2 linked regions of the Homo sapiens genome follow. The gene in region 1 interacts genetically with each later gene. Each region holds a gene or a part of one and is shown in the gene's direction. Other genes may lie near its edges.

Region 1 (7,046 bases):
CTCAACTGAAATGGAACATTTTAACTAGAAAGGGAAAAATCAAATGGTCTTATTAATTTCATCTTGACCTGCGTTGAGCTAAGGTGAAAGTGAAAATGAGGAAGTCGCAAGATAGAATAAAAATTGATATAGAAAATCAATATTGATAGAAAAACCATATCAGAGATTTATGGTAAGCTATAAAGGGTGGTAGAGATAAGCCTACTTACTGATGTATATTAAGAGGAAGTCATTTTGTATACACTAAATTGGAAACTTTTTTCTTTATAGACACAAGGTGTGAACATAGAACAGTTCAGAGGTAAGAGTTACTTGTATTTGTAATTTTTTCAGGGCTTTGGAGTAAATAATAGAGTGTAATTATGGGTAACATTTATAAAATAAAATGATGACAGAGGCTGTATTCCTTTGGGTACAGAATTGAAGAACACAGTATCATACAGTGGGAAAAGGAAAGGGCCCGATTCGTTGTCTGATGGACCTGCTTGCAAAAGGCCAGCTCTGTTGCATTCCCAATTTTTGGTAAGTATCTCACCATTTTCCTCTGACTATCCTTTGGAAATTATTCCTGGGATAATTTTAGAAGGAAGTGAGTGTGCAAGTTGCATTTTCCTTCTTTCCAGACACCACCTCAAACACCAACGCCCGGGGAGAGCATGGAAGATGTTCATCTCAATGAACCCAAACAGGAGAGCAGTGCTGATCTGCTTCAGAACATTATCAACATTAAGAATGAATGCAGCCCCGTTTCCCTGAACACAGTTCAAGTTAGCTGGCTGAACCCCGTGGTGGTCCCTCAGAGCTCCCCCGCAGAGCAGTGTCAGGACTTCCATGGAGGGCAGGTCTTTTCTCCACCTCAGAAATGCCAACCATTCCAAGTCAGGGGCTCCCAACAAATGATAGACCAGGCTTCCCTGTACCAGTATTCTCCACAGAACCAGCATGTAGAGCAGCAGCCACACTACACCCACAAACCAACTCTGGAATACAGTCCTTTTCCCATACCTCCCCAGTCCCCCGCTTATGAACCAAACCTCTTTGATGGTCCAGAATCACAGTTTTGCCCAAACCAAAGCTTAGTTTCCCTTCTTGGTGATCAAAGGGAATCTGAGAATATTGCTAATCCCATGCAGACTTCCTCCAGTGTTCAGCAGCAAAATGATGCTCACTTGCACAGCTTCAGCATGATGCCCAGCAGCGCCTGTGAGGCCATGGTGGGGCACGAGATGGCCTCTGACTCTTCAAACACTTCACTGCCATTCTCAAACATGGGAAATCCAATGAACACCACACAGTTAGGGAAATCACTTTTTCAGTGGCAGGTGGAGCAGGAAGAAAGCAAATTGGCAAATATTTCCCAAGACCAGTTTCTTTCAAAGGATGCAGATGGTGACACGTGAGTATTCTTTTATCTCATGTTCTTAATTAGGTAAGCCACACTTGTTGGACTAGTGAGCATATAATTTTTCTAGGGTATAACAAGGTATACCTTAGTTAGTGGTTGGCTAACCAAGATGACTGGTGTAGATAGAAACCGCCACTCAGTGATAGCTAGTATGTCAAGAAAGGGTTTTCCTTCAAAAAATTTTTTGGCTGAACAGATAATCTGTTCTAAATTGATAAAAATATCTGTATCTTCTTGATTAATTGAGTTTGGAAGACCAGCGTAGACTATGTCTATAGAACAGAAACAGTTAGATCATGATTAGGGATAAACTGTGAGTTGGTTTGTAGATTGATCTTAATCTGTCCTGATGTCTTTGTGGCCTTGGGCAAGTTATTTAACCTCCTTAGGTCTCAGTTCCTTGACGTGTAAAATGATAATACCTCTTGTATAGGGGTTTTATGAGTATTAAAAATAATAGATTTAAGTTGATCAGTATGGTGCTTGACATTCTTCTTTTTCTTATTTCTGATAGCCTAACCCATCCTGTTCCAACTGGGGTGTATTATCAATGTAGCAGAAAAGACAAATTATGCTTTGTAATGTTTCATTTGAGTGTACCAATATATAAAAAGGGGGCTAAAGGAAGATTTTTTTTTTTTTTTCAAAAGAACAACTTAGTGAAATCAGAAGTGATTCACCCGCTTTCCTTTCCATGTTCCCCAGGTTCCTTCATATTGCTGTTGCCCAAGGGAGAAGGGCACTTTCCTATGTTCTTGCAAGAAAGATGAATGCACTTCACATGCTGGATATTAAAGAGCACAATGGACAGGTGAGGACCTTGACAGAGTCTGAAATGGCAAAGAGGGGGTCATGGTGAAGTGAATGATGACCAGCCTTATGTGTAGATCATCTTAGAGCTCAAGATCAAGAGAGTTTAGTTAATATTAACTTTGAGATGTTGACTTTTTGCTACCATCAACCTTGAAGTTATTAATGTTAACTTTGTAGCTGTTTGACCAAACACTGAGAGTAATAAAGCCACACCCTAGGCTTACTTTAGTTTCCTTGTCTTACAGTATCTGATTGCTTATTCAAAGGATTTATTTTCTCTCTGTGGGTTTTTCCCTCAGTCATAGTTTAGTTTCATATTCCTTGTTATGATAACATTGTATGTTTAAAATATCTTTTTTCCTCTGGATATCCACAGAGTGCCTTTCAGGTGGCAGTGGCTGCCAATCAGCATCTCATTGTGCAGGATCTGGTGAACATCGGGGCACAGGTGAACACCACAGACTGCTGGGGAAGAACACCTCTGCATGTGTGTGCTGAGAAGGGCCACTCCCAGGTGCTTCAGGTAAGAGGCAGCAAACCAGGCTTCCATCATTGCAAGGCCAGAGAGATAGAGTTGGATATTAGAAGTCGGATATAGGTTGCCTGTTGCAATGATCTATTTTGAGTTAACTTATTCATTTCTTGGGGATTCTAATAGGTATATGCGCAGCTTATGTAGCTAACAGATGTCTGTTTTTAAAATCTGCAGGCGATTCAGAAGGGAGCAGTGGGAAGTAATCAGTTTGTGGATCTTGAGGCAACTAACTATGATGGTAAGCAACTGAAACTTTATTAGATTCAGAGCCACTTAGGGGGAACCATAAGGTCTAAGGGTGCTAAGTATACTAAGAAGGAAGGTAATTAAAGCTAAAATATTCTGTAGGTAAAATTAGACCCAAAAAGAGACAATATTCAGATTGCCTTACTAGTTCTTGTGGAGCCCATTTATAGGTTAAGTTAGAGGCCATCCTCAGCATTTGTCATTATAGAAGGACCAAAAGACCTGATGGGATGCTTGACCACTGCTTGATTATACTTTTCTTCTAGGCCTGACTCCCCTTCACTGTGCAGTCATAGCCCACAATGCTGTGGTCCATGAACTCCAGAGAAATCAACAGCCTCATTCACCTGAAGTTCAGGAGCTTTTACTGAAGAATAAGAGTCTGGTTGATACCATTAAGTGCCTAATTCAAATGGGAGCAGCGGTGGAAGCGAAGGTAAATTCACAGAAAAGGTTTAAGATGGGGTAGGGGAGAAACTGGTTATATAGCAAAAGACCTTGCTTCCAAGTACAGATTCAAACTTCTTTCTTTTTTTTCTGAAATTAATGGTGTGAGTAGCAATGTATGGGTGGTTAAGAAGCCCAGAATTTTTTTTTTTTTTGAGACAGAGTCTCACTGTGTCGCCCAGGCTGGAATGCAGTGGTGCGATCTTGGCTCACTGCAACCTCCGACTCCCTGGTTCAAGCGATTCTCCTGCCTCAGCCTGCCCAGTAGCTGGGACTACAGGTGCCTACCACCACACCCAGCTAATTTTTTGTATTTTTAGTAGAGACGGGGTTTCACCATGTTAGCCAGGATGGTCTCGATCTCCTGACCTCGTGATCTGCCCGCCTCGGCCTCCCGAAGTGCTGGGATTACAGGCGTGAGCCACCGCGCCCGGCCAAGAAGCCCAGATTTTAACAGATCATTTCATGTGTTTTCTTGATTTGCTTTAAATCCATGAATTATTATCCAAAAGGTCATTTAGGTATAAAATAAATAGTCTTTGAAAGGTAAAGAAAATGCTTGAAATTGATATTGTCATTTTGGCTTCCATTTTCATACACTGAGAATAAAGGTGCTTTTTGTAAGGATTTCTTCATTGTTGTAGGATGTGGAATTCATCTTCTGGTTTTTAAGCTGGAAAATAGTTTATTCTTTTAAAATTTTGGTTTTATTCACTGAGTATATGGGGGAAAAATGCCTAAGTCATAAACCATTTGGACCCTTGAGGCTTACTGACTAGTAAAATAGGTGAGAGATATAGCTAAATATAACTCTACAGGGAGGCTACCAAATCTGGAAATGTAGGTGAATACATAATAAATGGTTTACTGATAGGTTATGACATAGGATTTAAAAATATTTATTTTTCTACATTTTATGGCCACCCTGTATAAAAAGGTACATTGTGACAAGAGGCATATAGACAAATTAATAGGAAATTTAAGAGGAATAAAAGATTCCATTTAGCTTGGGATTAAGCAAGGCATTTTGGAGAAGGGAGCATTCAAAGTGAGTCTCTGAAGCTGAATCAGACATTCAGGAGACTGGGTGAAAAGTGTATTCTGAGGCATAGTATCTGGATTTTTTTTTTTTTTTTTCCTCCCTCTTGCCTTTGACAAGGATCGCAAAAGTGGCCGCACAGCCCTGCATTTGGCAGCTGAAGAAGCAAATCTGGAACTCATTCGCCTCTTTTTGGAGCTGCCCAGTTGCCTGTCTTTTGTGAATGCAAAGGTACACCAGAGTTGGAATGGCCTTCTGTACACCCTCTCAAAGTTTTTGAGCTCCTTTCATGAAATTTCCCCCTTCCTGATGTCTGATAATTCATTTCTTTGTCTTCAGGCTTACAATGGCAACACTGCCCTCCATGTTGCTGCCAGCTTGCAGTATCGGTTGACACAATTAGATGCTGTCCGCCTGTTGATGAGGAAGGGAGCAGACCCAAGTACTCGGAACTTGGAGAACGAACAGCCAGTGCATTTGGTTCCCGATGGCCCTGTGGGAGAACAGGTGAGAGGCACAGGAGGGAGAGGAAGTATTTTTTGGCACTGCAGTCTGAAACAGAAAGGGAGATGAGGCTGTGCAGGGCGAAGGCCAGCTGTTGCTCTTCAGGTGGACTCTATCAGTGTCTGTGTCTCACGGTAGCTGTCATAGCATTGTGGAGTTACTCTTCGTTTGGAAACAGCAATTAAGAAATTTGAGGGATTATCCATAGACTCAAAATGGTTAGAGGTCAGGTAGTATTCTGTGACACACACTTAGGGTTAGAGTAAGTCAGAATGGTTTAAGGTTCGGAAAGAGAAGATACCAAGGTTCCTGCAGATACCAAGGAAAGAGAATCTTAGTCTTGTAATGTATGAGCCTTCAAATATTGTGGATATTAAATGAGTTGTTACATGTGGAGTGCTCACAATAGTCCCGGGTACAGAGTAAGAGATCAGTGAACATCAATAGTTAGAATTATTTCTGTCTATGAAGTGATACTGAACAAAAAATGGAAAAATTACTTATGTAATTTCAAACCTAGAAATATTTTGTTTTAAACAGCATATTTAATGCTTTACTCATCAAATATGGTTATATATTATCATTGAGTATTGAATAGTTTCATGAGTAAACTTTTTAGATAACAAGAACTTATTCTTTCAAGAACTTAAAATGTTTTTGATGGAACTCTTTTCCTGGGAGGAATGAGGGGGATTGTGGCTGTGGGTAGGTCATTACATACTTTACTAATCACAAAATAAAATACGTGGAATGCAGTTTAGCTTTTTCTTTGATTCTGAGCTGTCATTATGACCATAATGTTATAGTAGCCCCTATTTATAGAGCTCTTTGTAATTTAGAAAGAATATTTCTATAGTTTGTAAAAAGTTTTCATGTATATCATTTAATAGTTAGAAGAACTTTACAAGTTTCAAGTTTCAACTGAGAAAATTGATATTCAGAGAGGTTCCAAGGACCAGAACCATCATTAACTTGTAAAAGGCAGAGTCCTAAGCCCAGTATTTGCTTCTACTTCACTGTTTGTGGTGTGCAGTCATATAACTATGCTCTCAGGGATCATTGAGATATTAAGCCATTTAACTCTTCATTAAATGTTCCCAGATTATCTCCTTTTTGCTTTGGTATTTTGTGTGTGTTGGGCAGGTAGAGGCTCTTTTCCCTGGCTTTTATTGTCATACTGTGGTCGTGTGTTTCCTTCTAGCAGCTATCAGTTGTATCCCCTACCCCAATCGCCTTTCATCTAAATTGTTGCTTCTAATCTGCTGGAGGCTGAGAGATAGAAAATAAAATTTGTCAGACTGGGATGTAAAATGAATCACTCTGAATGAGCCGGGATCTTTTCTGTGATCCATGAAGTTACGTGTAGATGCTTTAATACTTGGATATCATGACAGCTGTTTTGACTTGAATGGTATTAAGGATTTACTTGTGTGTGTATCATAAAATGTGGGTTTTCTGTTCCTGTTAGTTGAGGCTGACTTCAAGATAAGTGAGATATTATAATATGCCTTAATTACTGTCTTATGTTAAATGTTCTCACAAATAGCAAGAGTAAAGATTAGGAAAAGAATATAGGTGTTAAGTTTATGGAGATTTTCAACTTCAGATAATTTTTAGTGGAGATGTTTTACTTTCTTGAACTCAAAGATTATTATAAGAGATCTGAAATAAGTTTAAAAGGAGTTTAGTATTTTTAAAAGTCACCTCAAAATCTTGAGAAATATTGTGTGTATTTCTTCGTATACTTACAAGTTAATAGGAGTAGTGTAGATGGTATAAGAAAGGAATGAAACTCAGAAGGAAATACACCACATTGGCCATAAGAAATAAACCTCACAAATTTTATTTGTTTCTCTTCCAGATCCGACGTATCCTGAAGGGAAAGTCCATTCAGCAGAGAGCTCCACCGTATTAGCTCCATTAGCTTGGAGCCTGGCTAGCAACACTCACTGTCAGTTAGGCAGTCCTGATGTATCTGTACATAGACCATTTGCCTTATATTGGCAAATGTAAGTTGTTTCTATGAAACAAACATATTTAGTTCACTATTATATAGT
Region 2 (2,665 bases), on another chromosome or scaffold:
CGGGGGGTGGCTAGAGGGAGAAAAAGGAAATGTCTTGTGTTGTTTTGTTCCCCTGCCCTCCTTTCTCAGCAGCTTTTTGTTATTGTTGTTGTTGTTCTTAGACAAGTGCCTCCTGGTGCCTGCGGCATCCTTCTGCCTGTTTCTGTAAGCAAATGCCACAGGCCACCTATAGCTACATACTCCTGGCATTGCACTTTTTAACCTTGCTGACATCCAAATAGAAGATAGGACTATCTAAGCCCTAGGTTTCTTTTTAAATTAAGAAATAATAACAATTAAAGGGCAAAAAACACTGTATCAGCATAGCCTTTCTGTATTTAAGAAACTTAAGCAGCCGGGCATGGTGGCTCACGCCTGTAATCCCAGCACTTTGGGAGGCCGAGGCGGATCATAAGGTCAGGAGATCAAGACCATCCTGGCTAACACGGTGAAACCCCGTCTCTACTAAAAGTACAAAAAATTAGCTGGGTGTGGTGGTGGGCGCCTGTAGTCCCAGCTACTCGGGAGGCTGAGGCAGGAGAATCGCTTGAACCTGAGAGGCGGAGGTTGCAGTGAGCCAAAATTGCACCACTGCACACTGCACTCCATCCTGGGCGACAGTCTGAGACTCTGTCTCAAAAAAAAAAAAAAAAAAAAGAAACTTCAGTTAACAGCCTCCTTGGTGCTTTAAGCATTCAGCTTCCTTCAGGCTGGTAATTTATATAATCCCTGAAACGGGCTTCAGGTCAAACCCTTAAGACATCTGAAGCTGCAACCTGGCCTTTGGTGTTGAAATAGGAAGGTTTAAGGAGAATCTAAGCATTTTAGACTTTTTTTTATAAATAGACTTATTTTCCTTTGTAATGTATTGGCCTTTTAGTGAGTAAGGCTGGGCAGAGGGTGCTTACAACCTTGACTCCCTTTCTCCCTGGACTTGATCTGCTGTTTCAGAGGCTAGGTTGTTTCTGTGGGTGCCTTATCAGGGCTGGGATACTTCTGATTCTGGCTTCCTTCCTGCCCCACCCTCCCGACCCCAGTCCCCCTGATCCTGCTAGAGGCATGTCTCCTTGCGTGTCTAAAGGTCCCTCATCCTGTTTGTTTTAGGAATCCTGGTCTCAGGACCTCATGGAAGAAGAGGGGGAGAGAGTTACAGGTTGGACATGATGCACACTATGGGGCCCCAGCGACGTGTCTGGTTGAGCTCAGGGAATATGGTTCTTAGCCAGTTTCTTGGTGATATCCAGTGGCACTTGTAATGGCGTCTTCATTCAGTTCATGCAGGGCAAAGGCTTACTGATAAACTTGAGTCTGCCCTCGTATGAGGGTGTATACCTGGCCTCCCTCTGAGGCTGGTGACTCCTCCCTGCTGGGGCCCCACAGGTGAGGCAGAACAGCTAGAGGGCCTCCCCGCCTGCCCGCCTTGGCTGGCTAGCTCGCCTCTCCTGTGCGTATGGGAACACCTAGCACGTGCTGGATGGGCTGCCTCTGACTCAGAGGCATGGCCGGATTTGGCAACTCAAAACCACCTTGCCTCAGCTGATCAGAGTTTCTGTGGAATTCTGTTTGTTAAATCAAATTAGCTGGTCTCTGAATTAAGGGGGAGACGACCTTCTCTAAGATGAACAGGGTTCGCCCCAGTCCTCCTGCCTGGAGACAGTTGATGTGTCATGCAGAGCTCTTACTTCTCCAGCAACACTCTTCAGTACATAATAAGCTTAACTGATAAACAGAATATTTAGAAAGGTGAGACTTGGGCTTACCATTGGGTTTAAATCATAGGGACCTAGGGCGAGGGTTCAGGGCTTCTCTGGAGCAGATATTGTCAAGTTCATGGCCTTAGGTAGCATGTATCTGGTCTTAACTCTGATTGTAGCAAAAGTTCTGAGAGGAGCTGAGCCCTGTTGTGGCCCATTAAAGAACAGGGTCCTCAGGCCCTGCCCGCTTCCTGTCCACTGCCCCCTCCCCATCCCCAGCCCAGCCGAGGGAATCCCGTGGGTTGCTTACCTACCTATAAGGTGGTTTATAAGCTGCTGTCCTGGCCACTGCATTCAAATTCCAATGTGTACTTCATAGTGTAAAAATTTATATTATTGTGAGGTTTTTTGTCTTTTTTTTTTTTTTTTTTTTTTGGTATATTGCTGTATCTACTTTAACTTCCAGAAATAAACGTTATATAGGAACCGTCTGATAGCATGGCAGCTCTGTTTGGCTGGTGGAGGCTTCCTTTTCCCCTGCATAAGTTCTGAGGGGGCCTCACACACAGGTGGGGCCTGGGATAAGGGCCGGAAAGGGTCTTGAGAGGAGGTGGTTGCCTTAATCCCCCCCGCCAACCCCCTTATGTTAGCCACCAGCCCGGAGGTAAGGGGTGCCTGGAGGAGCAGGAGGTCAATAGTCCAACGGCAGAAAGGTGTCAGAGTGGAGGCCTCCCTCCCCGGCCCCCTCCTACCCCCCAGAGCGGCCTCGTCCTGTCTGGGGTCAGATAAGCCACCTAAGCGGGGTGGGGGGTAGATACTCCCACCGCACCAAGGCCTCCCCTTCCACAGTTGGCTCCTTTATCACTTTCCCTTCAGTTCACCCAGCGGGGACAACACGCAGACACCCGGTGGTGGCTGCAGGGCCCCCGGCAGCCAGCGGTGATAATGCAGGGAAAGGCGCCCCAACCTCAGCTACGCGGGCGCCCACAGGG

The links.
Region 2: of NFKBIZ (region 1) and STAT3, changing one suppresses a phenotype caused by changing the other (phenotypic suppression), as found in Homo sapiens cells (one study listed by BioGRID).

What each region holds. Positions count from the first base shown.
Region 1 is NC_000003.12:101,852,468-101,859,513, forward strand, and holds part of NFKBIZ (NF-kappa-B inhibitor zeta), read left to right. Parts: intron 1-270; coding exon 271-301; intron 302-418; coding exon 419-522; intron 523-623; coding exon 624-1,396; intron 1,397-2,110; coding exon 2,111-2,216; intron 2,217-2,594; coding exon 2,595-2,741; intron 2,742-2,927; coding exon 2,928-2,991; intron 2,992-3,265; coding exon 3,266-3,435; intron 3,436-4,605; coding exon 4,606-4,716; intron 4,717-4,824; coding exon 4,825-4,992; intron 4,993-6,850; coding exon 6,851-6,904; 3' UTR 6,905-7,046. UniProt on the Homo sapiens protein: Involved in regulation of NF-kappa-B transcription factor complexes. Inhibits NF-kappa-B activity without affecting its nuclear translocation upon stimulation.
Region 2 is NC_000017.11:42,312,823-42,315,487, reverse strand, and holds the end of STAT3 (signal transducer and activator of transcription 3), read left to right. Parts: 3' UTR 1-2,164; downstream 2,165-2,665. UniProt on the Homo sapiens protein: Signal transducer and transcription activator that mediates cellular responses to interleukins, KITLG/SCF, LEP and other growth factors. Once activated, recruits coactivators, such as NCOA1 or MED1, to the promoter region of the target gene.